Linked DNA regions of Homo sapiens. The protein of the gene in region 4 interacts with the protein of the main gene of each other region in a biochemical or structural test. Each region holds a gene or a part of one and is shown on either strand. Other genes may lie near its edges.

What was found.
Region 1: the proteins of KPNB1 (region 4) and NUP98 form a complex in vitro, tested with the Homo sapiens proteins (3 studies listed by BioGRID).
Region 2: the proteins of KPNB1 (region 4) and KPNA1 form a complex in vitro, tested with the Homo sapiens proteins (6 studies listed by BioGRID and IntAct, with this or other methods).
Region 3: the proteins of KPNB1 (region 4) and KPNA2 form a complex in vitro, tested with the Homo sapiens proteins (6 studies listed by BioGRID and IntAct, with this or other methods).

Annotation. Positions count from the first base shown.
Region 1 is NC_000011.10:3,794,071-3,801,623, reverse strand, and holds the start of NUP98 (nuclear pore complex protein Nup98-Nup96 isoform 1 precursor), read left to right. Parts: upstream 1-4,069; 5' UTR 4,070-4,224; intron 4,225-7,553. Other genes in the region: acyltransferase PGAP2, read right to left, coding at 3,642-3,644. UniProt on the Homo sapiens protein: Plays a role in the nuclear pore complex (NPC) assembly and/or maintenance. NUP98 and NUP96 are involved in the bidirectional transport across the NPC. May anchor NUP153 and TPR to the NPC.
Region 2 is NC_000003.12:122,504,672-122,512,398, reverse strand, and holds part of KPNA1 (importin subunit alpha-5), read left to right. Parts: intron 1-7,727. UniProt on the Homo sapiens protein: Functions in nuclear protein import as an adapter protein for nuclear receptor KPNB1. Binds specifically and directly to substrates containing either a simple or bipartite NLS motif.
Region 3 is NC_000017.11:68,031,001-68,039,205, reverse strand, and holds the start of KPNA2 (importin subunit alpha-1), read right to left. Parts: upstream 3,472-8,205; 5' UTR 3,366-3,471; exon of another isoform or gene 2,650-3,365; intron 2,097-2,649; 5' UTR 2,074-2,096; coding exon 1,999-2,073; intron 1,849-1,998; coding exon 1,711-1,848; intron 1-1,710.
Region 4 is NC_000017.11:47,666,919-47,673,918, forward strand, and holds part of KPNB1 (importin subunit beta-1), read left to right. Parts: intron 1-1,267; coding exon 1,268-1,492; intron 1,493-2,759; coding exon 2,760-2,951; intron 2,952-3,783; coding exon 3,784-3,914; intron 3,915-6,099; coding exon 6,100-6,247; intron 6,248-6,571; coding exon 6,572-6,643; intron 6,644-7,000.

The DNA.
Region 1 (7,553 bases), on a different chromosome or scaffold from region 4:
GTCACCCAGGCTGGAGTGCAGTGGCGCGATCTCTGCTCACTGCAAGCTCCGCCTCCTGGGTTCACACCATTCTCCTGCCTCAGCCTCCCGAATAGCTGGGACTACAGGCGCCTGCCACCGCGCCCGGCTAATTTTTTGTATTTTTAGTACAGACGGGGTTTCACCATGTTAGCCAGGATGGTCTCGATCTCCTGACCTTGTGATCCGCCCGCCTCGGCCTCCCAAAGTGCTGGGATTACAGGCTTGAGCCACCATGCCCGGCTGGGATACATTTTTAAATAATGCAAACAATACCATTTATTGAGGCCTTATCTGTGCCAGGTACTATGCTAAGTGCTTTAAATGTATTCTCTCTTTTAATGCTCACTACGACCCTGTAAGGCAAATGTGGTTGTTATCCCCATTTTATACAAAAGAAAATTGAGGTTCAGAGGGATTAGGAAATTTGCCCAAATTTCTTTTTCTTTCCTTTCTTTTCTTTTTTTTTTGAAGACAGACTTTCACTCTTGTTGCCCACGCTGGAGTGCAATGGTGCCATCTCAGCTCACTGCAACCTCTGCCTCCCCGGTTCAAGCAATTCTCCTGCCTCAGCCTCCCAAGTAGCTGGGATTACAGGCATGAGCCACCACACCCGGCTAATTTTTTGTATATTTAGTAGAGACAGGGTTTCACCATGTTGGCCAGGCGGGTTTCGAACTCCTGACCTCAGGTGATCCACCTGCTTCAGCCTCCAAAAGTGCTGGGATTATAGGCGTGAGCCACCATTCCCGGCAGGAAATTTGCCTAAATTTCTTTTTTTTTTTTTTTTTTTTGAGACGGAGTCTCACTCTGTGGCCCAGGATCGAGTGCAGTGGCTCGATCTCAGCTCACTGCAACCTCCGCCTCCCAGGTTCAAGCAATTCTCCTGCCTCAGCCTCCCAAGTAGCTGGGACTACAGGTATGTGCCACCACGCCCGGCTAATTTTTTTGTATTTTCAGTAGAGATGGGGTTTCCTTCTGTTAGCCAGGCTGGTCTCGATCTCCTGACCTCGTGATCCGCCCACCTCGGCCTCCCAAAGTGCTGGGATTACAGGCGTGAGCCATCCCGCCTGGCCCAAATTTCTTAATTAAATTAAACTGAATTAAATTAAATTAATAAATAAATTTAAACTGAATTAAATTAAATCTGCATCCAAATTTAAACCAGGGTTCTCTGACTCAAAGTCCAACACCTCTACTAATCCCCCACTGAAGAAAATAATTCACTCATTCGTGCATCAAATATCTAATGTGTACCTACTATGTGCCCTGCCTTAGGGACACCAAAATAAGTCAGTAGAAGAGAGCCTTAAAAATAATTGGGCTTGGAGATTAAAGGGCAAGAAATCAAATGTTCCAGAGGGCAGTTATGAAGCTACTGTAACTATCTAGGGAGAGTTAATGACTTTCTAAAGTCCAGCAAAGGCAAGGGAGTGTGGTTGTAAAGTAGGGGTGTTTTGGATGGAGGAGTTGGGGGAAGATGGCTGCAGTCAGTTGTTTAAAGTAACTTTACTATTTGGCCAACCATATATTGATTTTCTTCTTCCTTCAAGTATCTACTGAGCACCTACAATGTACCGTGTTTCTTCCATCCACTATCTTATTCCATCTTTACAACCCACCACCTTTTTTTTCCCCCAGTCGGAGGCTCCGTCTGTTGCCCAGGCGGGAGTGGCATGACTGTAATCACAGCTCACTGTAGCTTTAACCTCTTGGGCTCAAACGATCCTCCTACTTCAGCCTCCCTAGTAGCTGGGACCACAGGCGCTTGCCACCACACCTGGCCTTGGTTAATTTTTTGTATAGGTGGGGACTCACTATGTTGCCCGAGCTGGTCTCGAACTCCTGGGTTCAAGTGATCCTCCTACCTTGAACTCCCCAGTGCTGGGATTACAGGCGTGAGCCACCACTCCCAGTCTCCCATTTTTTAAACAAACAAATAAATCAATTATCTCTAATCCCTTGCCATCACCGAAAACCCAGATGGCTTTAAACTCATTTACATTTTAGGTAAAAGCCCAGTTCAATTTTGCATTCATGTCTCACAAAGGAGTAGTGGTGGAGGTTTTTTAAAAATTTTTTTTGAGATCACTCTGGAGCGCAGTGGCAGGATCTCCACTCACTGTAATCTCCGCCTCCCTGGTTCAAGCCATTCTCGTGCCTCAGCAAACCGAGAAGCAGCTGGGATTATAGGTGCCCACCACCATGCTTGACCAATTTTTGTATTCTTAGTAGAGACAGGGTTTCATCATGTTGGCCAGGCTGGTCTCGAACTCCTGGCCTCAAATAATCTGCCCGCCTCAGCATCCCAAAGTGCTGGGATTACAGGCATGAGCCACCAGCCCGGCCAGTATACGCTTTGCTTTCTGCGCACAGTTCCTGCTATGAGACTCTCAGTCACTAAACAGGTCTAGTTTCTAGAAAATGCCCACCTTTCACTCTTGTAATATCAGTTTTCTGCTAATGGGCTAGGCCCCAGAAGGACTTCCAAGAAGAGCCCAAGGCACAGAAAACCGAGGGTAAATAATAGGATACAAAGTGACAAGGCTTTAACAGAGGCCTGCCCAAGCATTAGCTCAACTCGCTGTGAAAGCTTGGCAAATGTATCACTGAGAAGATGGGAACATTTGAAATACCCGTCCTTTAAGAATAAGTAGGGGTTCGGCTGGGCGCGGTGGCTCACGCCTGTAAGGCCAGCACTGTGGGAGGCCGAGGCGGGCGGATCACCTGAGTTCCGGAGTTCGAGACCAGCCTGGCCAACATGGTGAAACCCCATCTCTACTAAAAATACAAAATCAGCTGGGCGCGGCGGCGAGTGCCTGTAATCCCAGCTACTCGGGAGGCTACGACAGGAGACTCTCTTGTACCTGGGAGGCGGAGATTGCAGTGAGCCGAGATCGTGCCACTGCACTCCAGCCTGGGAGAAAGAGGAGACAGAGCAAGACTCCATCTCAAAAAAAAAAAAAAAAATTAGTTCATGGGCGAGGTGGCTCACGTCTGTAATCCCAGCACTTTGGGAGGCCGAGGCGGGTGGATCACTTGAGATCAGGAGTTCGAGACCAGCCTGACCAACACAGTGAAATCCCCGTCTCTACTATAAATACAAAAATTAGCTGGGCCTGGTGGCGGACGCCTGTAATCCCAGCTACTTGGGAGGCTAAGGCGGGAGAATCGCTTGAACCCGGGAGGCAGAGGTTGCAGTGAGCCGAGATTGCGCCAATGCACTCCACCCTAGGCGACAACGCGAGACTTCATCTCAAAAGAAAAAGAAAAAAAAAGAATTAGGGGTTCTCCACGTGCAGCTGGGAAAGACGTTCCAACAATCCTCATTTGTACCAGGCCCTTTGGTGGGCCAGTCCCTTAGGGCATCTCTAATGCTCCTAATGTCCATCCTAGAAATTCAGGGAGGGAAAGAAAGTGCTGGGGCGAGCATGGGTCAGGAGAGAATAGGGTCAGGATTTAGGGCCCTGAAGAAGCCTCGGGCAAACTCTTTGGACAGACAGACCTTCCAAGAGGGCCCTCAGGCTCCGCACGTGGTCTGGGCGGGAAGTGCGGGCAGAGAGACTAGGAAGCCTTCCCAGCAGCGCCGGCGGACCGGGGCAAGGAAAGGGTCGAATAGTTACCATGCCATTCTGGGGCCGTCCCTCTGATTGGCCCGAGCTCCCTCAGCCCGAGTCGCGGCGCTCCAAGGAAGGGGGCGGAGTCTCTATGTTGCGTCACCACCCTTCCCGACACCCCGCCGGTGCTTCCCAATCTAGCCATTCACAAGCCCACTTCGAGAGGCCCTGTGTGACGTCACGACACGCTCCCGCCAACCGCGGCGGCGAGGGGCGGGACTCCACGGCCCTCTCACCGCTCCTACCCTGTGCCTCCCCGAACTCCTTCTGCCCCTCCTCTTCCCTCTCGCCCCTTCCCCCTTCAGTTCGGTTTCAAAAGACGCGTTGCCCAATGAATAACAGGGTCGACCCAGAGTGGCGGCCGCGTCCACCAATTCGCGGACGGCGAGGGCGGAGCGTCCGCAACGAGCCTCTGACGCCGGGCGGCGTGTGACGCAGTCGGGCCCTCTGCGCGCTGCGCCCGAAGCGGCGGTCGGTGGCAGGGGTGGTAGCGGCGGCGGCGACGGTTTCGTGGGGGCCGCGCGCTGCTCTGTGAGCGGCGGGTGGCAGCAGGGGACTCCTGACACTTCCCCTTCCCCACCGAACCGCGGTAAGTCGGGAGCCCGAGCTGCAGCGGCCGAGACCGGCAGGTTTCTCCCCCCTTCCGGGCGGGCGGACGCGCGGGGCGTCTCAGGGCCTCTCCGCTTCGAAGTCTAGCGCCGCTGCGCGCACCTTCTGGCCTGAGAGAGGGGCGGTGCTGAGGACCCGGGGGCCCGGAGCCCGGGAGGCCCGGCTTTGGAGGCCCTGGGAGAGAATGGACATCAGTGGGGTCTAGGCCTGGAGGTCTCCAGTTGCTGCCCACGCGAGTGGGTGTCTGTCTGGTTGTACTCATTCATTCAGTGGTGTAAGGACCCCACGGTGGGCTGGCCTTTCCGGGGTCAGCGCCTTGAAACCCTGAATACGGTCTGCCCCGCACTTCCTTGACCGTCATGTGGGACTGGGCTTTATTTGCCTTGGCTTCTCCATAAGGGAAGTGGGCACCCCGAGGATTAGGGTGAGTCCGAAGTTTGGGAGATTTTTAAGATAATATCTGAGAATAGGAGTCGGTTCGGTGGAGCAAAAGGTTCTTTTCTATTTTCCCACGTGTTCAGTGTAAAGCCAGATGAGGAGACAGATTGAGTTTCTGGATTACTATAGCCATAAGGACTTTAGAAATTGTTTAAGTCAATCCCCCTACCTTACATCAGTTTTGTAGATGGGGAAACCGAGGCCCGGAGTAACAGGCAGGATTAGCCAATGCCAGATTTTTGACAGTCTAAACAGTTTTCTACTACCTCACCCTCCCTGGATATTTCAGTCTCCCATTATTAAGAATTCCCTTTAGGAGGTCGGTGCGGCATGGACATTAGGTAGCTAAACGTAGATGTAGTCTTCACAGCGTTTTCCGTTTAGTTGCTACCAGCTCTGTTCACGGGTAAGGTGGAAGCTTCGTTAGTGGTACCCTAACCTAGAGCTTGAGAACTAAACTTAGAAGATGGTTAAAGAACGTCAGCGTTGTTATGTATCGGAAACAAATCGGTAAAACTACAAGCCATTGTTTCCCTTTCTAAATCTGAATTTTTTGACTTGTGTCAGCTGATGAGGACTCGGAGTCAGTTAGGGATTTATAACAGTACTGGAATAGAAAGCAGGAAATATTGATAAGACTTAGAAAGCCAGGTAGGAGTCCGTTTGTAGTAGTTGTACCTCGGAACTCATGGCTCCTTTCAGGTACAGAATTCAAAGTGAAGTATTATAGTAGAATAAGGTGAGGAAATAAAACTCCGTTTTGGAGGAAGAAGCTAACTGGAATAAAGAGCAAAAAGAGAGCAGTGATCATTCCCTGTGACGGTCTTACAAATTCGAAAAGAAACTCGAGTTAACTGGGTTACAGTATGTTTACCTGGTGGAGGAAGTTAGGGTATTTAAAAACCAAAACTAGAGGTTGGACAGGATAAAGGTACTGGGAAATACTTGGGTAAAATTATTCTTTTTGACTCTTCAGATTTGATGAAATTGAATTAGTTGACACTTGGTTCTGTACACATCAGTAAGATTGTTACTTTGTTCTTGTATAGATGACAAAGCATAAACTCAGAACTAGTAGTGCAGAAGAGAACCGTAGTCTAAATAGTAAAGCGTGAACAGGGTATGTTTTCCGTGACATTTTCTCAGTTCAGGCATCACCCTCTTCTGGGAAGCTTTTCTTGGCATTCTCTTCTCTGCAAGCTTCCATAACACTTATTTGATATTTCTATTTATAGCACATATCATTTTTATTTTAGCTGTTTTTTTAATTAGGCTGGTAAAATATTTTCATCTTATCTTTGTTGTCCAGTTGCTTGCCACATAGTAGGCCCTCAGTAAGTGTGTTTACTTGAATGAATAGACAAATATGGAGGAGTTATACCTAACAGTAGTCAATAGAGAGGCTCCTGAAATATGGGGCCCAGATAAGATAGTTCCTGCTGTTTATATGTTATGTGATACTTTGGTCCCTGACATTTATTTGTTTATTTATTTATGAGATAGGGTCTCACTCCATCACCCAGGCTAGAGTGCAGTGGCGCAATCTCGGTTCACAGTAGCCTCTACCTCCTGGGCTCAAGCAATCTTCCCACCTCAGCCTCCCAAGTAGCTGAGACCACAGGTGTGCACCACCATACCCAGCTAATATTTTTTTGTATATTTTGGGTAGAGACAGGGTTTCGCTATGTTGCCCAGGCTGGTATCGAATTCCTGGGCTCAAGCCATCCCCCACCTCGGCCTCCCAAAGTGCTGGGATTACAGGTATGAGCCACTGTGCCCAGCCAGTACCTGACTTTATGTCTACTAGGTCCTAGATAACTAAGAGCAAGTAGAATTTTTAAGGAACTAAATTTACGGCTTTGAAAAAATTATATTATTTTCTTGTAATATGATTTATGTGGTGGTAGTTAACCTGGAAAGTAAAGAATGATGGTACTAATGTTTAATTTCCAATAATGAGACTATGCAGTTATGTAATTTGTTGAAAGGTTAGGGAACTAAGAAACTCAGAGATTTAAGGATAAGTATTGGCTGAGCATGGTGACTGACTACTGTAATCCCAGCACTTCAAAGGTCAAGGCAGGTGGATTTCCTGAGCCCAGAAGTTCAAGACTAGCCTGGGCAACATGGGGAAACCCTGTCTCTACGAAAAATACAAAAATTAGGCAGGTATGGTGGCATGCACCTGTACTCCAGCTACTTAGGAGGCTGAAATCAAAGAAACATCAGAGCCTGGAAGATTGAGACTGCAGTGCTGTGATTGCACCACTGCTTTCCAGCCTGGGAAACTGCGTGAGGCCCTGTCTTAAAACAAAGGCGTGGTGTGGTGGTTCACGCCTGTAATCCTAGCACTTTGGGAGGCCGAGGCGGGTGGATTGCCTGAGCTCAGGAGTTTGAGACCAGCCTGGGCAACATGGTGAAACCCCATCTGTACTTAAAAAAAAATATGAAAAATTAGCTGGGCGTGGCAGCATGCGCCCATTGCCCCAGCTACTCGGGAGGCTGAGGGAGGAGAATTGCTTGAACTCGGGAGGCGGAGGTTGCAGTGAGCCAAGATTGTGCCACTGCACTCCAGCCTGGGCGACAGCGAGACTCTGACTCAAGAAAAAAAGAAAAGAAACAAAACAAAACAGTATGTATTAGAGGCAAGGTAGGTAAACATTTCCTGAGAACTTGGTGCATTCTTTTTGTTTGAAATTGACCGTAAGTATTTGGCACAGTATGGCTCTAGAGAAAGGTTTCTCAGCTTTGGAACTTTGAGACTTTGGGCCAGATAATTATCGTGGGGGCTCTGTTGTATATTGTAGGATATTTAGCAACATTCCTACCTCTACCCATTAGATACCCATAACACATCCTCTGCAGGTTGTA
Region 2 (7,727 bases), on a different chromosome or scaffold from region 4:
TCACAGAACTATGATTTAATATACATCTTATCTAGAGCTGATACTTACCAAAGGGGCCATTAAAAACATCTTTTCTTCATTAATATCTAATGAAGAAATTTCTAATTTATGTATTGGTTCCTATAAAATACAGACCTTAGAGACAAATTCTTCCTAAGACCCCAGTATTAAGCTTTTTTTTTTTAAACTAATGATTGGTTTTATTAGATTATTTTTGTTTTGTAAGCCATCCTGTTTCTCTATACTTTGACTGTCAGGAGTCTCAGAGCTGTGTTCAATTTTTATAATTTTCTTTAGTCTCAACTATGTTAAGAATTATTTTATACGTAACCTGGAATTGCTGTCAGTTGTTTCTTGCATTATTTTCTTTATTCTCTGTTGCTCTCAATGGTCCTTTTACCTTTTCCCTTTTCCCTTTACATTTGAGAATAGGATTATATCTTATTCTTTGCATCTTCAGTGTTTTAGCACAGTGTTTGTTGAATTAATGATAAAATAGAGTTTTAATGATTTATGATGTCTGTGCTTTTAAGTCTACCAGATTGTTTTTAGATGTATGAGTACTGTGTATAAAATCAGTTAAGACCTTTGATTGGTCTTGCAAGTAAAGATGACTGACCTAGTGATAAAGATAACTCCTTGTTTTGTTTTAAGGTATCTTTGTACTTTGCATGGTGTTATGAATTTAGCCATAATAGGGAAGAAAACACTGGAAATGGTAAACAGTTAAATTAGCTGATTTGGGCTGATTTCTGTCTTTTGCTGCAGTAAGCAGGAGATGGCCTGAGGCCAACTGAGGGCCAGATAGGGCCTGCATTAGAAAATTTTGAGGTTGTACATTGGAAGAGTAGGGATGAAGACTGTGGGAATGTATGTTTCTTTCTTTCTTTTTTTTAAAGATGTTACAAACCTACAAAACAACATGAAAAAATGGTTCTGTCCAAGTGTTGTAGACTAATTGGGACAGTTCTTGAAAGCAGGCAGTAATCCAGAATGTGGATAATGGAGATAATCTCCTTCATATTAACAAGAATAATGCTGCCCTTCATATACAAAGATAAGTCTGCTTACTCATCATGATTGTTTTTCCAGCGTGAGGAGGGATATGTGCTGAGTCCATGAGTGCCTATATACTCTGTGAGCAACAAGGCAGGTTGGGGTCAGAATAGGCAGCTTGGGGTCAGAATAGGCAGCTTGGGGTCAGCTAGGGAACAGAAAGACCCGCTGAAAGTACTCTGACATCTATTGATGGGTCAGGTTCTGCATCAGGTGCTTTCACTTACTTGTTCTTGCAAAACCATTTTGAGGAGGTGATTACGTGTGCAAGGTGATTGGGTAACTCGCCTTACTTCACAAAGTAGTGGAGTTGGGATTCAAATAGGGCTGTTTGTACTGTGTTCACATTGATCGTTAAAGATTGGTTTTAGCCGTTCAGTCTCTTTGGCAGAACAAACTAGATGTAGTTTAACACCATGAAATAATACTGAAGATCTAATATAACCGTCGTGAGATTGTTCAAGTTCCTTGTTTTATCAACATTAAAAAAATAAAATTTTGGAATTAGAATACCTGAAAAGCAGCTGTTCCCTGTCCCAGCCTCTGCACTTGAAAAGCTACCATTTTCTTTCTTCTAGCTGTTTCCTCTTGTGTTTGCTTTCATATTTATAAATACAGTGACTTGCTTTTATTGCTATATCATGATATAGCAATTATAGATATTATTGGCTTTCGTCTAAGCAAGATGTTCCTTAGTGTTTCACATATATATTCACCTCACCTGCCATATGCACACACTGTCTCTACCATCCTCCAAATATAGTTATCACAGGTGTGTCTACTAAACCAATATTTAGTGTTTACAATATTGTAACTCTATAAATGTTCACAGCTGACCCATGTAGAGTACTGTGATATCATTTCTTCTCTTAATAAATTTTTGTTTTTCTACAAGTTAGTATTTTTTGTTGTTGTTTGCTTCATTTCCTGAGACAGCTAACCTGGAACCTCTTAATGCAATTAGGACTGGTTACTTTCTAGGCCTATTTCATAGTTGTTATCCAGGGACTTCTCTTTTCATCATCCTTAAACTTCTTTGCCCTCTTTTGTACTGGTTCCCCTGTTTACTGTTTCCTGTATTTTCTTTCTTGGTTTACTTATTTCCTTGGAGTACATTTTTTAGTAGCTTTCTGAGAAAGGATACATGGAAAACAAAAACTTCCTGACATCTTACATGACTGAAAAAAATCTTTATTCTTCCTTCGCATTTGATCAGTAATTTGTCTGGGTATAAAATTCTGAGTTGAAAGTAACTTCTACTTCAAGTTTGCAAGTCATAGTTCTATTGTTTTCTTTCTTCCAGGGTTACTCTTGAAATCCAAAGCCAATCTGATTCTTTGTTTGTATGTGATCTTCCTTTACCCCAATCTCTAGAAGCTTTTAGGATATTTTTAACCCTCAAAATTCCATGATGATGTGTCTAGGTATGGGTATTTTTTTGTTTAAGGGCATTCCATGGACCTTTATAAGCTGGGAGTTCATGTCCTTTAGTTCTCGAAAGTTTTTGTTATTATTTGGATGTTAGGCAAAAAGAATTTTAGAATGAATTATGCTTCTCAGTTCTTGTCACACATCAGATCGTACAAGGTCCTTTAAATTTTTATCTTAAATTTCTGAGCCCTACTTCTGTTACCTCTTTGTATAACATTGTGGTTGGTACATTCCTTGATTATATATGAAACATTGTAAAATATGTAGTGGAGCTGTGTATGTTTAGGTATTGTGTTATAGACCTTGCAAAGGTCTTTTTCTTTTTTATTCAACATTGATTTGGGGATCTTTCTGTTTTGTTGTAAGTATGTATAGTTGTGTCTAATGTAGAATTCTGTAATGCAGATCTACCACATTTTACTTTTCATTCCCTAGGAATTGATCCCTGAGTTGCCTTTCTGCTATTTCAAATACCCTGTGTTATATATACTCTTGTACATTATTATAGACCTGTATAGAAGTTCTCTAGGATATATACCCAAGATTGTGATTCCTTGGGCATAGAGTGGGAGAATTAGTGTATGTGCCTACTTGAGTGCTTGAGAGTTCTTTTTTGCTCACATGTTTGCCTTTACTTGGTTTTATCTTTCTTTTTTTTTTTTTTGTTTGATAGAGAGTCTTGTTCAGTTGCCCAAGTGAGTGCAGTGGCATGATCTTGGCTCACCGCAACCTCTGCCTCCTGGGCTTAAGCCATTGTTCTGACTCAGCCTCACGAGTAGCTGGGTTTACAGGGGCCCGCCACTACGCCTGGCTAATTTTTGTATTTTTAGTAGATACGGGGTTTCACCATGTTGGCCAGGCTGGTCTTGAACTCCTGACCTCAAGTGATCCACCCTCCTCGGCTTCCCAAAGTGCTGGGATTACAGGCGTGAGCTACCGCGTCCAGCCTCTCATTCTTATTTTATAGTATATTTGTGTTGTTTCATAGATGCTGTATTCTTTCTGGGGATATTAATGATAGTTTTAAAAATTTTGTTACCATTGTTGTCTTTTCTTTATTGAGGCTTTCCCCAGATGTCTGGTAGTCTTGTGGCTGTCCATTCATATTTAAGAATGAAGTGCCAAAAACTGAATTGGAAGCTCTATTAAGTGTGGCTTGTTGAAGGGTGAAGAGAGTAGCTGGTGGCCATTTTTTTTGTGGTGGGTGGAGGGCATATACTCATAGGTTTGTTTCTCTTGGGCTAGTCAGTTTCCCTGAGAGTCTCCAGTCTCTTGCCAGGAGAATGTGTGTCTGGCTGCCATGTTTTGAGAACTCATTTTAGAAAAGGAGCTTGGGTTTTTACTGTTGTGCTCATGTAATTCTGTTATCAATAAGGCACCTCACCCCCACCCTCACCTGCATTGGAGCACCCATTTGAAGGGATTACTGAAGGATGGTTGTCTGGTTGTGAAGAGTGGAGGAGGAAATCTGGGCATGTGATGGCTGTTTTGTAGACTTTCAACAAACCTTCTGATTTTGAGCCCAACTCCTCACTACCTTAAGGAGGGATAGTACCTGGATGATCTGTCTGAAGCATCCTGTTTGTGGGTAGGTAGTGTGAATCAGCTTGTTTCTTATTGCCTTCTTCGTTTGCAGGTTAGGCTTCAGAGTTTTCCACTTTGCTAGTGACATATAATTTGTCTATTTTATGGCTTCTTTTAGGTTTTGACACCATCTCTGATTCTTTTGCTTACCTATTCTCTTTATGCCGTGGTTCTGGTTCATTTATTTGAAAAAAAAATTTCTTTATAATTTTAGTATTCTACCATGTCTACCATTTTATTTCTTTACATAAACTCTTTGTTTTCTCCTCTGTTCATTTTTTCACAGCATTTGAATGACCACTGTGTGCCTATTGAAGATTAAAATTGAATTTCTGGCTTTGAGTTAATATGATATGGGAAGAAAAGTGCAGTCTATATGTGCTAATTCCTGATTTGAAATTTGAAAACCCTCATAAGTGTTCTTAAAACAGATATATTACAGTGGTTATTAAATTCATTAATGGATATGAATTGAATGAAGGCAAGTTTTTGCGATTAAAAATTTTTTTACTACTGAGGGAACGAACCCTTTATGTCATCTTCTGGAAAGATTTGTCTTTTTTTTTTTTTAACCCCCCAAAAAATCATTCAACTTTTAGATAAGAGATAATTTTTCTCCTTCATAAAGACCATAAAGATCAGAACTTCTGAAGAAATAACAGCATACTCAGTTGAAAAAATAGTAGTGAAAAGTATAGAAATTCAGTGTTTTAGGTAGGTTGATAAGCTTTATCATAGTAAACATATGCTTTCAGCTCTACTTTTTGAAAGTTTTTTTCTTGTATAATCAGTATATTGCTTATCACAGAAAATTTGGAAGATAAAATAATATTTCCATATTCAAATTTTATATGCTGATATCTTCTCTTTTCTTTTTTTTTTTTTTTGAGATGGAGTCTTGCTCTGTCGCCCAGGCTGGAGTGCAATGGCACAATCTCAGCTCACTGCAACCTCTGCCATCTGGGTTCAAGTGATTCTCCTGCCTCAACCTCCCGAGTAGCTGGGATTGCAAGCGCCCGCCACCACGCCCGGCTAATTTTTGTATTTTTAATAGAAATGGGGTTTCCCCATGTTGGCCAGGCTGGTCTCGAACTCCTGACCTCTGGTGATCCGCCCGCCTTGGCCTCCCAAAGTGCTGGGATTACAGGTGTGAACTACTGCGCCCAGCTATATTCTGATTTCTTAAGTTACGAAATATTTTTCGAAAGTATAGAGAATAGTGTAGGTTGGGTTTTTGTTCCCAGCATTCAGATTTTTCATGTTAGTGTTCTGTTTTCTCAATACATTGTGAACATTTCCTTTAACCAAGCCCTCATATTGGAACTTTTAGGTTTTTTACAATTTTTCACTAGAATAATCACACTGCAGTGAACAGTCTTACACATACTACTAGTTTTGTTTCCTTTATGTACATTCTAAAAGTGGAAGTATTCAATTCAGGGTTTGAGTTCTCCAGATCCTTGACAGATATTTTCCTTTAAGTGTTTTGATATTGAGAATGTCTTTGGAGAACTTCCCAGCTTGGGAACCTATAGATACTGGGAGTTGGGGGTCAGAATTTGGGGCAAAGGTTATGATAAACCTCTCAAAGGAAAACATTTGAAACTGGGCTGTGAAAGAAAATATGTATTGCCATTGGATTATTGGTTAGAGCTATAAGATGAGGCCAGAGATGAACACCTATGAATCATATGTCTGCCACATTGACTTCTCACAGGAAAAGCTTTATTGAAGGGTTTTTCAAACTTTGCTTTCATTGAACACTGAAATGCTCTTAATAAAAATAAAGCTACTCCTTAATTATCGTATAGGAAAAGAATGGGTAGGATATTTCAAATTTTAATTTTCTTTTCTAATTTCTATTAAAATATTTTAAACGGACCTACTATCGTTTGACTAGAAGCTGTTAACATCAATAATTTATATTTTCAAATGAACTGAACACTTTATACTTATACTCCACTTATTTAAATTCATAACTTTTTTGTAGTCATACTTTCTTGTAGTTTTGGTTTTTAATAGTAAATGCATATCATATACTTTCTAATAAAATTATGCCTGATTTATATGGTGGAATTAAGTATATTAGGATTTCAAGTTGTTCCACAAGAGTATTATGGATTTTAAATATTCAGAACATTTAGAATGTGTTTGAGATTTACTGATTAGGTGGGCTGACCCAGTGCACTGAATATATAACATCTTGAATATAATAAAAATATAAAAAGATCTACACTCATTGTTTTGGGTTTAGAGTGGTGGAGAATGGTATTGAATGAATCCAGACAAAAGGATCTTGCAGGACCAAGAAGTTTAGACTTGTTCTAAGAAGTGGTTAAAAACGTTGTAGTTCCTTATCCATTGAAGTGATACAGTGAAAAGGGTGTTGAGATTAATCTGAGGGCTGTGTAGGATGAATTGAGGAGCAAAGAGTCTGAGGTTAAGAATGCTGGTTTAGAGCTGTTGTAGTTATCTAGGTGTCAGTTGACACAGACTTGAGCCAGGCTGGTGGCAGTGGGAATAGATCGGATCAGATAAAATCAAAGACTTTGGATAGAATAAGCAAAATTTGATAATTGAGTAACTAGACATGAAGGAGAAAGTGAGGGGATCTGTCTTTGAAAGAGTGTGTTTCTATTTCACCACCAGTATTGCATCTTGTTTTTAAGTTTATTGCTTCTTTGGCTTTATTTCTCTAGAAAACAAGAGGAAATTTAGGTATAATGGCTTTAATTTTGAAGGCTTCTGATTCCTGAGAGGGTACTTTGAAAAGTAACTTACAATTTTTAATTAGTAGCTTAGGTGATAACACCTAAAAATATTTGCTTAGGATAAACTAATTTTCTCATACAATTACTTTGTTATTCCTCTTATTACAGACATAGAGATTTATTTCCTTTCTTTCCTATCAAAGCTATCTTCAGTCCAACTTCAGCCTTCATTTTCAACTGTATTTTACATTGTTTTAAAATAAAACTTTTGCTCTACTATAGTGATTTTCAACTGCAGATGCATATCAGAATTTGCTTGGATTTTTTTTTTTTTTTTTTTTTGAGGCATGCAGTGGTACAATCCTGGCTCACTGCAACTTCTGCCTCCCGGGTTCAAGCCATACTTATGCCTCATCCTCCCAAGTACCTGGACTCACAGGTGCATGCCACTATGCTGGCTAATTTTTGTATTTTTAGTAGAGGCGGGGTTTCACCATGTTGGCCAGGCTGGTCTCGAACTCCTGACCTCAAGTGATCTGCCCGCCCCTTGGCCTCCCAAAGTGATGGGATTACTGGTGTGAGCCACTGTGCCTGGCCCACTTGGGGATCTTAAAAGGAAGAAAAACCCAGAGGTGTCTGTCTGCTTCAGACACATTAATTAGACTCTTTAGAGGGACATTTGAGGCTTGTGTTTAAAAAAAAAAAGAGTCTCTCCCAACAGAACAAATGTAATCCCCTCTCCATCCTAAGAGGGGGCAACGAATCTCATTTATGGATACTGATGAGATATTTATGTTTTAAAAAATCTCTCTCTCTCTCTCACCCAAAGTCTAAATGCATCCATTGAAGTAATAGAGTGAAAGGAGTGAAACTTAAAAATCTCACCAGTATCCATAAATGAGATTGGTTGTCCCCTCTTGGGGTGGGAAGTCTAAATACACACAT
Region 3 (8,205 bases), about 20 Mb from region 4:
GAGGCTGCAGTCAGCCAAGATCGTACCACTGCACTCCAGCCTGGGCAACAAACCAAGGTTTTGTCTCAAAACAAAAAAAAAAGGAAGCATATTGTGAGAAAAACATGTAGGAAAGGGCCCAGATGAAAGATAAATTTGAAAATCTAAGTTAAGTCTACTTTATGGAAGGCCTTCATAGAGTAGGGATTTCTTAGAGACAGGGTCTCACTGTCACCCAGCATGGGGTGCAGTGGTGCAATCACAGCTCACTGCAGCCTCAAAATCCCGGGCTCAAGTGATTCTTCTGTCTCAGCCCCCTGAATACCTAGGACTAAAGGCCGGCGCCACCACACCCAGCTAACTTTACTTTTTATAGAGACGAGGTCTTCCTATGTTGCCTAGGCTGGGCTCAAACTCCTGGCCTCCAGTGATCCTCCCATTTCAGCTTCCCAAAGTGTTGGAATTACAGGCATGAACCACCATGCCCAGCTGGAGTATGGATTTATTTTATTTTTATTTTTTTCCTTGAGACGGAGTTTCACTCTTGTTGCACAGGCTGGAGTGCAATGGCATGATCTTGGCTCACTGCAACCTCCACCTCCCAGGTTCAAGCAATTTGGAGTATGGATTTTAAGGAGCGAAAACACAGGTCTAAAGCAGTACTTCAGGAAAAATTTCAGGAAAATAGTATATGGCATAAAGAAGGATATGATAAATTAGGAGGCTACTGTAAATATTTCAGAAGGAAAGTCCTGAACAAAGCTGGTGACAAATACAAAAACATAGAGAATACCAAAAAAGGCAGAAATAAACCAAAAACGGGAAGGGCCTGGTGGCTCACGCTTGTAATCCCAGCACTTCTGGAGACCAAGGCAGGCATATCACGAGGTCATGAGTTCAAGACTAGCCTGGCCAACATGGTGAAACCCCGCCTCTACTAAAAATACAAAAACAGGCCGGGCAGTGGCTCACGCCTGTAATCCCAGCACTTTGGGAGGCTGAGGCGGGTGGATCACGAGGTCAGGAGATCGAGACCATCCTGGCTAACATGTTGAAACACCGTCTCTACTAAAAATACAAAAAATTAGCCAGACAGGGTGCGGGCGCCTGTAGTCCCAGCTACTTAGGAGGCTGAGGCAGGAGAATGGCGTGAACCCGGGAGATGGAGCTTGCAGTGAGCGGAGATCGCACCACTGCACGCTAGCCTGGGCGACAGAGCAAAACTCTGTCTCAAAGAAACAAAAACAAAAAAATACAAAAACTAGCCAAGCGTGGTGATGCGCACCCATAATCCCAGCTACTCAGGAGGCTGTGGCAGGAGAATTGCTTGAACCCATGAGGCAGAGGTTGCAGTGAGCCGATTGTGCTGCTGCACTCCAGCCTGAGCAACAGAGCAAGACTCCATCTCGGGGGAAAAAAAAAAAAAAGAAGAAATAAACCAGAAACTGGCTGGCTCTGGACACACTGGTCAGGCCAAGGTACCCAGCTAGTAGCTAGAAATGCAGGGAAGTCTGAAGGAAGGTCAGAGCTAAAGGAAGATCCTAAATCAGCTTCAGTGGATTACAGAAGGCAGGAAAGAAGACAATTACTAATTGCAAACAGAGAAAAAGATGTTCACAGATAGTTAAAACCGTTAAGACTAGAAATGTTAAGTTTACTTGAATTTCTAAGAAAAGTCCCTACTGATTTTCTGGATTTCACGTAACTCATAAACTAAAATACATTTTTTACCTGGTTGTTGCGGTTTTCCTGCAGCGGAGAAGTAGCATCATCAGGAAATGAGCTTACATTTCTCCTCTTCAGCATCTGGTCATCCTTCTTAGCTTTCCTCAGCTCCACATTGACCTCTATTCTGCGACGCCTCATTTCCTTGAGAAAAGATAACATGCCGTTTCACCTATCACACCAGTTTTTGTTGCTAAGTGAGGGCATTTTTTTTTTAAATACCTCAGTTTTCACCCCTTTCCAAATGTCTTCCCATTTAAATACCACCACAGGAAAGCAACAGAAGGTACTCACTGTACTGTCTTTTCCCTTGTTCTTGAATCTGTGAAGACGGGCAGCTGGTGTATTAGCATTCTCGTTGGTGGACATGGTTATGAGACAAAGGGAGAAAGCTAAAAGATGGGGGAAGAGAAAAATATTTCCTTTATCATTTTCCTTTGTCAATAATAGTACCAAATAAGAACTGAATTATCAAGCATCTACTGAATCCACACCTGTATACTAGAGGGGGGATCATCATGTTTTCGGCACTATGAAATAGCTTTACCCAAAGGGGAAGTGTCCCCCTTCCCTCTAAAGGGCTGAGACTTCCTGGAGAGGGCTCTCCATCAGAAATAGAATGCAAGCTATATAAATTGAAACTTCCTAGTAGCCATATTTTTAAAAAGGAGAAAAGAAACAAGTGAAACTAATTTTAATAATGTATTTTACTTAACCCAACATATCCAAATAGTATTTCAACGTGTTATCAATATATAAAATAACTGACATCTTCTACATTCTTTTTCCATACTCCATCTTTGAAATCTTTTGTGTACTTTAAGCTTACAGCGTATTTCAATTTGGACTAGCCACATGTATCCACCGTTTCTGACAGCCTAGTTCGATACTCCAGAGTCCCTAATAGTTAATTCAAGACAAAGTAGGGGAACCAAGTCAACTTACAGCTAAAAATTATGTGCCAGGGCAATAAATTCAGATCCTCAGGAGGCTCTCCCTATTTTACTGTCTTTACTTGGCCAAAATAGGTGCAGACTCGAAAATTAAATAAAAATTTGCTTCATCATTACATTATGGTCAACATTAAAAATGCAGTGCCGCATCTCGCATATTTGATTTGCATTTCCAGAGACTAGGAGTGAATGCGCTTAATTAGGATGACATCAGCTGTGCGTCATTCAGAAGATGACAAAAGTCAAAGCCCTCCTTACAATTTGCTATCTTTGCTTTCATTACGCTCGCCTACGACTTGGTGGCAGAGCCACCCCCGGGGCCTAGGTGTCAGAGACGGTGCTCCCAACTGCCACCCCCAGCCCCTGCCCCCACGCCGGGGAAGATGCAACGAGAAAGGAGGAGGCGAAACCAGGGCCGCCACAAGTCCTCCCGGGACATTCGCCCTCAAGCCTGGCTCGCTCCGATTCTCCCGGCCGCGACGCGTTAAGGCCTCCGCTGCCGTTTGCAGAGCGTCGGCGCCCTAAACCCGCAGACCCCGCGAAACTCAGCCGCCTGGTCAATGAACGTCGCCCCCGAGGCCTAGTCAACGCGGGAGGCAGAGCCAGGCTCGGCGTGGACCCGGGGCCTCCCTCCCCCAACCCAAAAGGCGAACGCCGCCCACGGGCAAGCCGTTAGCGCTCGGGCCGGGCCGCCGCCTGAGTCTGTACCTGCGAAGCGGGCCTGGGCTTCCACGGGAGGCGATGCGGGGGGAATCAGCGGCTGTAGGGCGACTGCGTTCAAAGGGTCCACCTCGACTCAGCTCAAAGACCGTGTGGCTCGTGCAGCCGGCCGGCGCGATTTAAATTTCCCGGTGACTCCGCATTCCGATTGGCTGGTTCGAGCCTAAGCTGTGTGCCCATTGGTGGATTTGAAAAACACGTTGGGAGGGGAGGGAGTCATAGGGCTTGGGGGCGAGTGGGAGGGGGGAAAGAAAAAAAAAAAAAGAGGATGGCATCGCGAGATGAGGGAGCGGCCGGGCGGTGAGGGAGCGGCCGGGCGGTGAGGGAGCGGCCGGGCGGTGAGGGAGCGGCCGGGCGGTGAGGGAGCGGCCGGGCGGTCCCTGAGCGCCTGGCGGGGCGGAGCGGGAGGACTCCAGATCCCGTCAAGCAGCGCGAAGGGGCGGTTCCCTGGGCCGTTCGTGTTTCCATAGGGTTGAAGCGTGCATGGTCCTTGGGCGTTTTCCTGGGCGACAGCCTTAAACAAATACCACAAAATGATTCTCTAAGTCATTATTTTAAAAACTTTGTTGTTGATCTTCATGAAAATAAAAAAATTCTAATTAGTAAATAAGTAATCTTTATAGAAAAACATATTGCTTTGCATTTTTTTCCTATTATGACACCCAAAGTACTCGGCGGGGGTTTCTGGCTACTATGGGAGGGAAGATTTGTGTTATATTTTTTAGTTTAGTTTTTTTTTAATTGCATCATAAAAGACTGTATAGAAGCCGCAAATATGGAAACAAAAGGTTTCTTATGCCTGTTTCTCCAAAAACTCAAGTTTTTTATTTTTAAATAATTTCAAATGCAGCAGAATTGCAAATCTTTATCCAGATTTGCCAAATCTTAACATTTTGCCACATTTGCTATTGCTTTCTCTATACATATATATGTATACATATGCACGCGTGTACATATGTGTGATTTTAATATGTTACTTTAAGAGAAAGTTTCAGAATCATGTCCTTTTTCCTCTGTTTCACGGTGTCTCTCCTAAGAAAAGACATTCTCTTATATAACCACACTGCAGTCATCAAATTCAGAAAAACTGAAATTTCATGCTGTTGTTTAGTATGTAGTGTGTGTTCAAGTTTTTTCAATTGTTATAGTAACATTCTATGCTCATTACACATTTCTGAATTTTGCATTTTTTGCCATATGCTCAAACGAACAAACAAAACAAAGATGGTCAACAGAGCATCAGGATTCTGGGCCATTTTTGTTTCTGCAATTTTTTTGTGTTCTAAAAGATTACATTTTAGAAAAGTTTTCATGGTTTATTTCTTACTATAAATAAATTCAAACAGCAAGTTTGTCCATTTTTGCAGGCATTAATGCCAGCCTCATTCATCGTAAAGCCAGAGTTCATAAAGGGTTGGACCTACTCTTAATCAGCATAATCCCATCCCCCTAAATGCAAGAATGTGGAAGGAATTCACCCCTAAACCAATCACTGTGTGGCATTCTCTCAGCTACTGAGAATGGTTCAGGGGCAGGCACATGACCTAAATTCATCCAGTTGGACAGCCTCTGCCTTTTGTTTACTGGTTGGAGGTAGGAAAGCAGCCTCTGTTCTTCTGAACTAAGGGATGTGAGTCCTAGAAATCTGAATAAGAAAACTGTAGGGAAACCTTGAGAGGTCTGACCTGCTCTATCTCTGAAGGTTTGCAGGTAGGAGATCCGATACACATTTCTTTTGTATTGTCAAGTTGAGTTTCTTCTCTTTTTTTTTTTCTTTTTTTTCTTTTCTTTGAGACAGGGTCTAGCTCTGTCGCCCAGGCTGGAGTGGAGTGGCACGATCTCAGCTCACTGCGACCTCTGCCTCCTGGGCTGAAGCCATCCTCCCACCTCAGCCTCCCAAATAGCTGGGACTATAGGTACACACCACCACGTCCAGCTAATTTTTGCATTTTTTGTAAAGACAGGGTTTCACTATTTTGCCCAAGCTGGTCTCGAAGTCCTGAGCTCAAGCAATCCACCCACCTCAGCCTCCCAAAGTGCTGGAATTATAGGCCTGACCACCATACCAAGCCAAGTTGAGTTTCTTTTGCTTGAAAATACTGACTACTATGTGCCCAGAAGTGTTCTGAGTGTTTACCATATATTAATACACTTGATCTTCACAACTGTGAGGTAGTACTGTTATTTGCTCTATTTCACAAAAGAGAGCACTGAATCACAAGTGTTTATGTAACTTGTTCCAGGGTCACACAGCCAGTAAATGGCAAAGACAGGATTCAGCCATAAGCAGTCTGGTTCCAGGATCTGTGTTCTGAACCACTATTCTGTACTTGCACCTAAAAACAACCTGAAACAGAAGTATAATGCCCAAAATTGCCTTTGAAAGATACGATATCGTCGGGCACAGTGGCTCACACCTGTAATCCTAGCACTTTGGGAGGCTGAGGTGGGCAGACCACCTGAGGTCAGGAGTTCAAGACCAGCCTGGCCAACAAAGGGAAACCCTGTCTCTACTAAAACATACAAAAAATTAGCTGGGCGTGGTGGCAAGCACCTGTAACCCCAGCTACTTGGGAGGCTGAGGCAGGAGAATTGCTTGAATCTGGGAGGCAGAGGTTGCAGTGAGCCGAGATCACACCATTGCACTCCAGCCTGGACAACAAGAGCGAAACTCCATTTCAAAAAAAAAGACTAGCCTGTCCAACATGGCAAAACCCTGTCTCTACTAAAAAATATAAAAAATTAGGCAGGTGTGGTAACACACACCTGTGGTCCCAGCTACTCAGGAGGCTAAGATACAAGCATCACTTACACCTGGGAGGTAGAGGTTGCAGTAAGCTGAGATGGTGCCACTGCACTACAGCCCAGGCGACAATGCAAGACGCCGTCTCAAAAAAAAAAAAAAAAGTCCTATCATTTATGACCAAGTTTTAGCTGATGTGTTAGTCCACTAGCATAGTCCGCTTAGGTTACCATAACAAAGTACTACAGGCTGGGAGGCTTAGATAACAAACATTTATTTTTCTCACATTTCTGGATCACGAAATCTGAAATAAGGGTGCCAGAGTGGTCAGTTTCCAGGAAGGGCCCCCCTCTTTGGCGTCCAGATGACCATCGCCTAATTGTGTGCTAGCATGATCTCTTCATTTTAGCACAGAGAAGGGAGAGTGAAAGCTCTCTGGTGTCTCTTCTTTTTTTTTTTTTTTTAGATGGAGTCTCGCCCTGTCACCCAGGCTGGAGTGCAATGGCGCGATCTCAGCTCACTGCAACCTCTGCTTCCTGGTTTCAAGTGATTTTCCTGCCTCAGCCTCCCAAGTAACTGGGATTACAAGTGCATGCCACCACACCTGGCTCATTTTTGTATTTTTAGTAGAGATGGGGTTTCACCATGTTGGCCAGGCTGGTCTTGAACTCCTGACCTCATGATCCACCCACCTCAGCCTCCCAAAGTGCTTGGATTACAGGCATGAGCCACTGCGCCCGGCCTGATGGCTCTTTTTATAAGGACACTAATCTCATCATGAGGGCCCCACCCTCATGAATTCATCTCAACCTCCCAGAGGCCCCATTTCCAAATACTATCATACTGGGAGTTAGGTTTTCAACATATGAATTTTTGAGGGGGATGCAAACATTCAGTTCTTAATATCCATTCACCAGCCTGGGCAACATAGCGAGATGCCCTCCTCCAAACCACCATCTCTACAAAAATTAAAAAAAAAAAAAAAATTAGCAGAGGCTGGGAGCAGTGGCTAACGCCTGTAATCCCAACACTTTGGGAGGCCGAGGCAGGTGGGTCACTTGAGGTCAGGAGTTCAAGACCAGCCCAGCCAACATGGTAAAACCCTGTCTCTACTGAAAATACAAAAATTAGCCAAGCGCGGTGGCTCGTGCCTGTAGTCCCAGCTACTCGGGAGGCTGAGGCACAAGAATCGCTCGAACGCAGGGGCAGAGGTTGCAGTGAGCTGAGATTGTGCCACTGCACTCCAGCTTGAGCAACAGAGTGACACTCTGTCTAAAAAAATAAATAAATAAAAATAAAAAATTAGCCAAGCATGTTGGTATATGCCTGTAGTCCCCGCTACTTGGGAGGCTGAGGTGGGAGGATGGCTTGAGCCTGGGAGGTGGAGGCTGCATTGAGCCGAGATTGTACCACTGCATTCCAGCCTAGGTGGCAGAGTGAGATGCTGTCTCAAAAAAAAAAAAAAAAAAAAATCCATTCAGATTATCTTCCTTCAAAATATGAATGTTGAGTTAAAACATGCAAAGAAAGAAAGAAAGGGGCCTGGAGCTGAGCTGGCTGAAAGACATAGGACCACCAGCTACTGAGGCTGAGGCCCTTTAGTTACTGTCTTTCTAGGCCGTCTTGTAAACTCATGTTTCAGTTCTGTGAACTATACAACATCCCTCAAACACACCACTTTCTCAATTTTTTCTTCTTTTTGAGACAGGGTCTTGCTCTGTCATCCAGGCTGGAGTGCAGTGGCACGATCAGAGCTCCCTGCAGCCTCAACCTCCTGGGCTGAAGTGATTCTCGTACATCGGCCTCCCAAGTAGCTGAGACTACAAGCATATGCTACCACGCCCAGCTAATTTTTGTTTTTTTTTGTAGAGATGGGATTTTGCCATGTTGCCCAAGCTGGTCTAGAACTCCTGGGCTCAAGAGATCTGCCCACCCCAGCCTCCCAAAGTGCTGAGATTACAGGTGTGAGCCACCGTGCTCAGCCAAATACAGCCCTTTCTGATTTGAGTGTGGCAGCAATCCCTAATTCTCCACCAAAACTCATGTTTCACCTTCCATTTGGTCTACTTGTTGCTGGTAGATGGG
Region 4 (7,000 bases):
CTTTCTTATATTTTTATTGTGCTTTTCCTATTTGAGAACAAATTATTCTTTGTGTGATTTTCTGAAACTGCATAGGCAACCTGCCTTAAGTTTACTATGTGGTGTGAATGGCCACAATTAGGAAGCTATACCTTGGATTCTAACTTAAGAGGAGATATTAGTGGAATCTTTTCTTTTTTGAACTTTTGTGGTTTTGGTTTTTGGTTTTTTGGGGTGGCGTTGGGGGGTACAGAGTCTTGCTCTATCACCCAGGCTGGAGTGCAGTGGGGCGGTCTTGGCTCACTACAACCTTCATCTCCCTGGTTCATGTGATTCTCTTGCCTCAGCCTCCCGAGTAGCTGGGATTAACAGGTGTGTGCCACTATACCCAGCTAGTCTTTGTATTTTTAGTAGAAACGAGGTTTCACCATGTTTACCAGGCTGGTCTCGAAGTCCTGACCTCAAGTGATCTGCCTGCCTTGGCCTCCTAAAGTGCTGGGATTACAGGCATGAGCCACTGCACTGCACCTTGCCTCTTTTTTGAACTTTTGATTGAATCATGTCTTCTTCCCAGTCATGAAACTCCCTTACTTTCCTGGTCTTTTATTCCATAGGTTAATTTTTGTTGATTTTGGACTTTATTTATTATTATTTTTAATACTATGTTTTTTTTTTTTTCTGACAGAGTCTCACTCTGTTACACAGGCTGGAGCACAGTGGCACAATCTCGGCTCACTGCAACCTCCGCCTTCCAGGTTCAAGCAATTCTCCTGCCTTGGCCTCCTGAGTAGCTGGGACTACAGGCACGTGCCACCACACCCAGCTAATTTTTGTATTTTTAGTAGAGATGGGGTTTCACCATGTTGACCAGGCTGGTCTCAAACTCCTGACCTCAGGTGATCCACCCACCTTAGCCTCCCAAAGTGCTGGGATTACAGGCATGAGCCACCGCGCCTGGCCGATTTTGGACTTTACATAACTGGAATCATACAGCATACATTCTAGTTCTGTATTTTGTTCTAAATGTTTGGAATTCATTCTTTTTGGATGTAGTTGAAATTTTTTCATTCTTGTTGTGTAGTACTAAATGGAATCTTCTTCCATCTGAATCTTGTTTAACAAAGGCTATGCTGTGATGAATGTTTGTGGAAGAGACAAAATATAAAGGTCTTATATTTTATTTCCCTGGAGTTTAAGTTCTAAAGACATTCAAGAGTAGTCAGAGGACCTTTAGAGTTAAAATGATTCTTTGGACAAAATCTTAACTAGTGCCATATTCTTTCACCAGGACGAAAATGATGATGACGATGACTGGAACCCCTGCAAAGCAGCAGGGGTGTGCCTCATGCTTCTGGCCACCTGCTGTGAAGATGACATTGTCCCACATGTCCTCCCCTTCATTAAAGAACACATCAAGAACCCAGATTGGCGGTACCGGGATGCAGCAGTGATGGCTTTTGGTTGTATCTTGGAAGGACCAGAGCCCAGTCAGCTCAAACCACTAGTTATACAGGTGAAACTGAGGGATTTTTGGAGTAGAAAGTAGGATATTTATTGTTTAAACTTAAAGCATATCTTTATTTTTCAAAACAAAACTGTAAATTGTCATCTACAAAGATTATCTCTAGATACTTGTTTACTTTTAATGAGGGTAAAATATATTTCTTAGGTTTTTAATTACATAAGTCAGCATGATCCAGAGACATGTGAAAGAAGCCAAAAGAGAAAAGTCATCTTTAATTTCATTGCCCAGAAATACCACTCTTAACTCTGTATTTATCCTTGAAGCTTTTTCCTATGTGCATGTGTGTGCAACAGGCTCTTCCTGTGCAGATTGTTTTATAACTTGTTTCTTCATTTAATACTATGTTGTAAACATTTCCCAATAATTTTTTTTTGCACCTAGCACTGATTCCCCATAATTTTTAATAATGGCATTATTATTCTATTCTTTGGACAAAATGTCCTTTATGTAATGAAAATGTTCTTATGGAAATGTTGTGCTTGTTTTGCTATTACAAGTCGTGCCATTGCACTCCAGCCTGGGCAACGAGCGAAACTCTATCTCAAAAAAAAAAAAAAGAGTTTGTTATAGTTGAGTTTAGTGCTTAAAGAATTCAGTCTTCAGTCTTTCTGGATATAGCCAGATGCCATCATAGCTGCATCCTGAGAATTCTGAGTATCTGAGTAATTCTTTTTTTTTTTGAGGTAGGGAGGCGGGGGGATGGAGTCTTACTCTGTCACCCATGCTGGAGTGCTGAAGTGCAGTGGTGCAATCTAGGCTCACTGCAACCTCCAGCTCCCCAGCTTAAGCAATTCTCGTGCCTCAGCCCCCTGAGTAGGTGGGACTATGTGCCACCATGCCCAGCTAATTTTTGTATTCTTAGTAGAGAGACCGGGTTTCATCATGTTGGTCAGGCTGGTCTTGAACTCCTGACCTCAAGCAACTCCTGACCTCAAGTGATCTGCCTGCCTCAGCCTCCCAGAGTGCTGGGATTACAGGCATGAGCCATCATCATGCCCGGCCTCTATCTGAGTAATTTATTGCAGACTACTAAAAGCATTTACACCAAATTCTTAATATAAAACTCTAAACTGGAGTTTTGAAAGATATTTTCAAATATTTTGAAAGATGTTTCACACCATGTCCTGTAAAATTACAGAAGTATCTTGGTGACTTTTTTGAGTTAAGCCATCCATCAGTATTTCTTTCTCTGGGGTAGTAGTTAACATGAATTTTAATCTTTGTTTTGCTTTGCTAATAACTGTTATATTTTCAGGCTATGCCCACCCTAATAGAATTAATGAAAGACCCCAGTGTAGTTGTTCGAGATACAGCTGCATGGACTGTAGGCAGAATTTGTGAGCTGCTTCCTGAAGCTGCCATCAATGATGTCTACTTGGCTCCCCTGCTACAGTGTCTGATTGAGGGTCTCAGTGCTGAACCCAGAGTGGCTTCAAATGTGTGCTGGGTAAGGGATTTTCTTGCTGGTGAGAAAAGGAGCTTGCCTGCGCCACTGGCAAGAAAGTAGAAGGTGTGGGAGAGAAATCAATCTGCCTCACTGGAATGCTTTTTCTGATTTTCTTTCTAATTTATTCAATTAAAATGTGGGGGAGATTCCAACTGCAAGAGCCAGTGGGAACACTTGACTTATGGTTACTGGTTCCTGAACCACTTAGAACAGTCATGGTAACCCAGTGGGGAAACTATCTGGACTTGGGTTGCTTTCTTGAATTGCTTGGGGACAAGAAGTTTTGATTAAGGTAGAGAGTTTTTGGCTGTAAGAAGTATCATTGCTGAGTAGAGGGCAAGAGGGAAGGAAGGTAGGCAGCCTAAATGCTGAGTCAGTATAGGCTAATGTAATTGGTTAAGGGGAGGAAGTTCAAATAAGGAAGGAATGGGGCTAAACGTCTTTCTGTGAAAGGAAACAGAAATGAAATGGCAGGTATGGTTGAAAGTACTCTGCTGCTTAGAGAGTTGTCAGATTATCAAACAGGATGATGAGAGATGTCAGATTATCAGACAGGATTTCTGTGATTGGAAACAGAAGAAATGGCAGGTATTGGTGAAAGTACTCTGCTGCTTAGAGAGTTGTCAGATTATCAGACAGGATGAACAGGAAGTACAAATCAAATAAATAAATAGTTAGTTTAAAAGATACCTGTAAAATGCTGTCTTGAGATGACCTTGGCAGAAAAAGTTGGAAGTTCACTGACACGGCCCAAAGTATCTTAATGAAAAATGAGATAATCCTAAGGTGTGGGGTTCTTTCAGGATTAACATTGAACCTATGTGCATTTCAGGCTTTCTCCAGTCTGGCTGAAGCTGCTTATGAAGCTGCAGACGTTGCTGATGATCAGGAAGAACCAGCTACTTACTGCTTATCTTCTTCATTTGAACTCATAGTTCAGAAGCTCCTAGAGACTACAGACAGGTAACTGATATTTCACAGAAATGAGTGACGTCTTTGCATCCAAGTTCTATTGCCTTCTGTGTGGAGGATATCTAGCTTAATCATAGAAGCATAATGAGACAGGACAAGACTCTACCTTCTCTAGAGGAATTAAAAGAAACCCGCTGGGCGCGGTGGCTCACGCCTATATTCCCAGCACTTTGGGAGGCCAAGGCGGCTGGATCACCTGAGGTCAGGAGTTCGAAAGCAGTCTGGCCAACATGGTGAAACCCTGTCTCTACTAAAAATACAAAAAATTAGCCGGGCGTGCTGGCGCATGCCTGTAGTCCTAGCTACTTGGGAGGCTGAGGCAGGGGAATTGCTTGAACCTGGGAGATGGAGGTTGCAGTGAGCTGAGACTGCGCCATTGCACTCCAGCCTGGACAACAAGAGTGGAACTCGTCTCAAAAAAAAGAATTCCATGATTGATTGATTGGTTTGTTTAAAGATGGAGAAAGAAATGCAGATTCCACCTACCTTAGAATTGTTCAGTTTACAGCTGAAATCTGAATATAGTGTAATTTCTCTGCTTTCTTTGTAGAGAGTAATAGATCTAGAGAGGTTCCTTCATTTTGCAGCATTGACAGTTAACAGGAGTATTTGGTTACAAGAGAAATGATAGTACTCATTATGAATTTGATTGCCACACCAAATCAATAACTACCATTTTTATTTTATTTTATTAATTAATTAATTAATTTATTTTGAGACAGAGTGTTGCTCTGTTGCCCAGGCTGGAGTGCAGTGGCGCAATCTCAGCTCACTGCAACCTCCTCAAGCGATTCTCCTGCCTCAGCCTCCTGGGTAGCTGGGACTACAGGTGCATGCCACCATGCCTGGCTAATTTTTGTATTTTTAGTAGAGACAGGGTTTCACCATGTTGGACAGGATGGTCTCGATCTCCTGACCCTCGTGATCCACCTGCCTTCGCCCCCCAAAGTGCCAGGATTACAGGCATGAGCCACCATGCCCGGCCAACTACCATATTTTTATATAGGATGAAGAACTTGGGGTAAATACAGTTGACTTAGAAACAAGCTTTTGAAATGTTGTTTAAAGGGATTATAAGTTGGAGACAACCTTTAACAATTTATGTTTTGTATGAGCTATACCTAAAGTCATGAGCAAAGTAAACCTTCAGGAAGAGAGCTGAGCACAAAATCTTCCTTTTTTTTTTTTTTGAGACAGTCTTCTCTTGTCACCCAGGCTAGAGTGCAATTGTGCAATCTTGGCTCACTGCAACCTCCTGGGTTCAAGTGATTCTCGTACTTCAGCCTCCCGAGTAGCTGGTACTAAAGGTGCCCACCAACATGCCTGGCTAATTTTTGTATTTTTAGTAGAGATGGGGTTTCGCCATGTTGGCCAGGCTGGTCACAAACTCCTGACACCTCAGGTGATCTGCCCACCTTGGCCTCCCAAAGTGCTGGGATTGTAGGCCTGAGCCACTGTGCCCATCAAAAAAAAAATCTTCCATTTAACTAGTTCATGTCCATGCCTCTTTGAGATTATATATGAAGACATCTTTTTTAAATGAATGAAGAAAATTGGGGTATTTTTTTTTTTCTGGGACGGAGTTTCGGTCTTGTTGCTCAGGCTGGAGTGCGGTCTCGGCCCACTGCAACCTCCACCTCCCAGGTTCAAGGAATTCTCGTGCCTCAGCCTCCTGAGTAGCTAGGATTACAGGCACAAGCCACTACACCTGGCTAATTTTTATATTTTTAGTAGAGGTGGGGTTTCACCATGTTGACCAGGCTGGTCTCAAACTGACCTCAAGTGATCCGCCTGCCTCAGCCTCCTAAATTGCTGGGATTATAGGCATGAGCCATCACGTCTAGCCAGGAAAATTGGGGTATTTTCTTCATAGCACTTCAGACAACCTGTTAAATTGTTCACATGATTTTTTACCATTTCAAACCATTTTTTCCTCTATAATTTTAGCCCATTTCCAAAAGGGCCATTCTAAATTTTAACTGTCTGGAGACCATAATGAACATAGCCATTGGCTCAAAGGACTTGAAGATTTCATTCTTGGATATTGTGTTTTCAAACTCAAACCAGGTCTGCAGACATACCGGTTCCTGAGTTCTTATTTTTGGCAAGACATTGTCTATGTTCTTCCCTGTCCTTTTCATTTGAGGCTTTAAGATTTTCGCTGTGTTCTTTACAGACCTGATGGACACCAGAACAACCTGAGGAGTTCTGCATATGAATCTCTGATGGAAATTGTGAAAAACAGTGCCAAGGATTGTTATCCTGCTGTCCAGAAAACGACTTTGGTCATCATGGAACGACTGCAACAGGTTCTTCAGATGGAGGTGAGACCTAAGAGTGCCCCTGACTATGGGTGGGAATTGGGTAGTACTTTTGACACCTAGGTCTGTTTTCCAGACTGTTCTGTCTTTTTAGTGTTTAAGTATATATTTTCTCAGAAAGATAATAAAGCTTATACAAAAAACATTGCACCTTAACGTTAGCATTGTTTGTCATGGTTTACTCATATATGTGTTACACTATATGTATTATGGGTTTTTTGTTGCTGTTGTTTACTTTCCTATGTTAGTATTAGGGAAGATTATTAAATGGTCCCAGCAAAAGTGGAAGGTTTTCATGTAGAGTATGTTTTCTTATTTTCTTTGTAGTCACATATCCAGAGCACATCCGATAGAATCCAGTTCAATGACCTTCAGTCTTTACTCTGTGCAACTCTTCAGGTATGGTGGTGCCTTATGACTTAATAACTCCAGGTTGGAGAATTATTAGTATCTCAGTATAACAAGTTCGTGTACACACAGAACTCGAAAATGGTATAGATGATGCGGATCAGAAGCTGTTCTCAGAAGGCTTTGGTCTGTGATTGGTTGATTGGGAGAGGAATTCCCCACCTGCCTTACCTGTCTGTCTAGAAAGATTCAAATCCTACTTATTTACAGATGGTCTAGATGTAATCTTGATAAAATCAAACCAACTTGACTTCTCCTAATTCAACATACACTCCTCAGACCTCTCTTCCTCACTCGTTTGTTTCAACTAATGTCACTGTGTAGAGAAGGAAACTACTTAATGTGTGA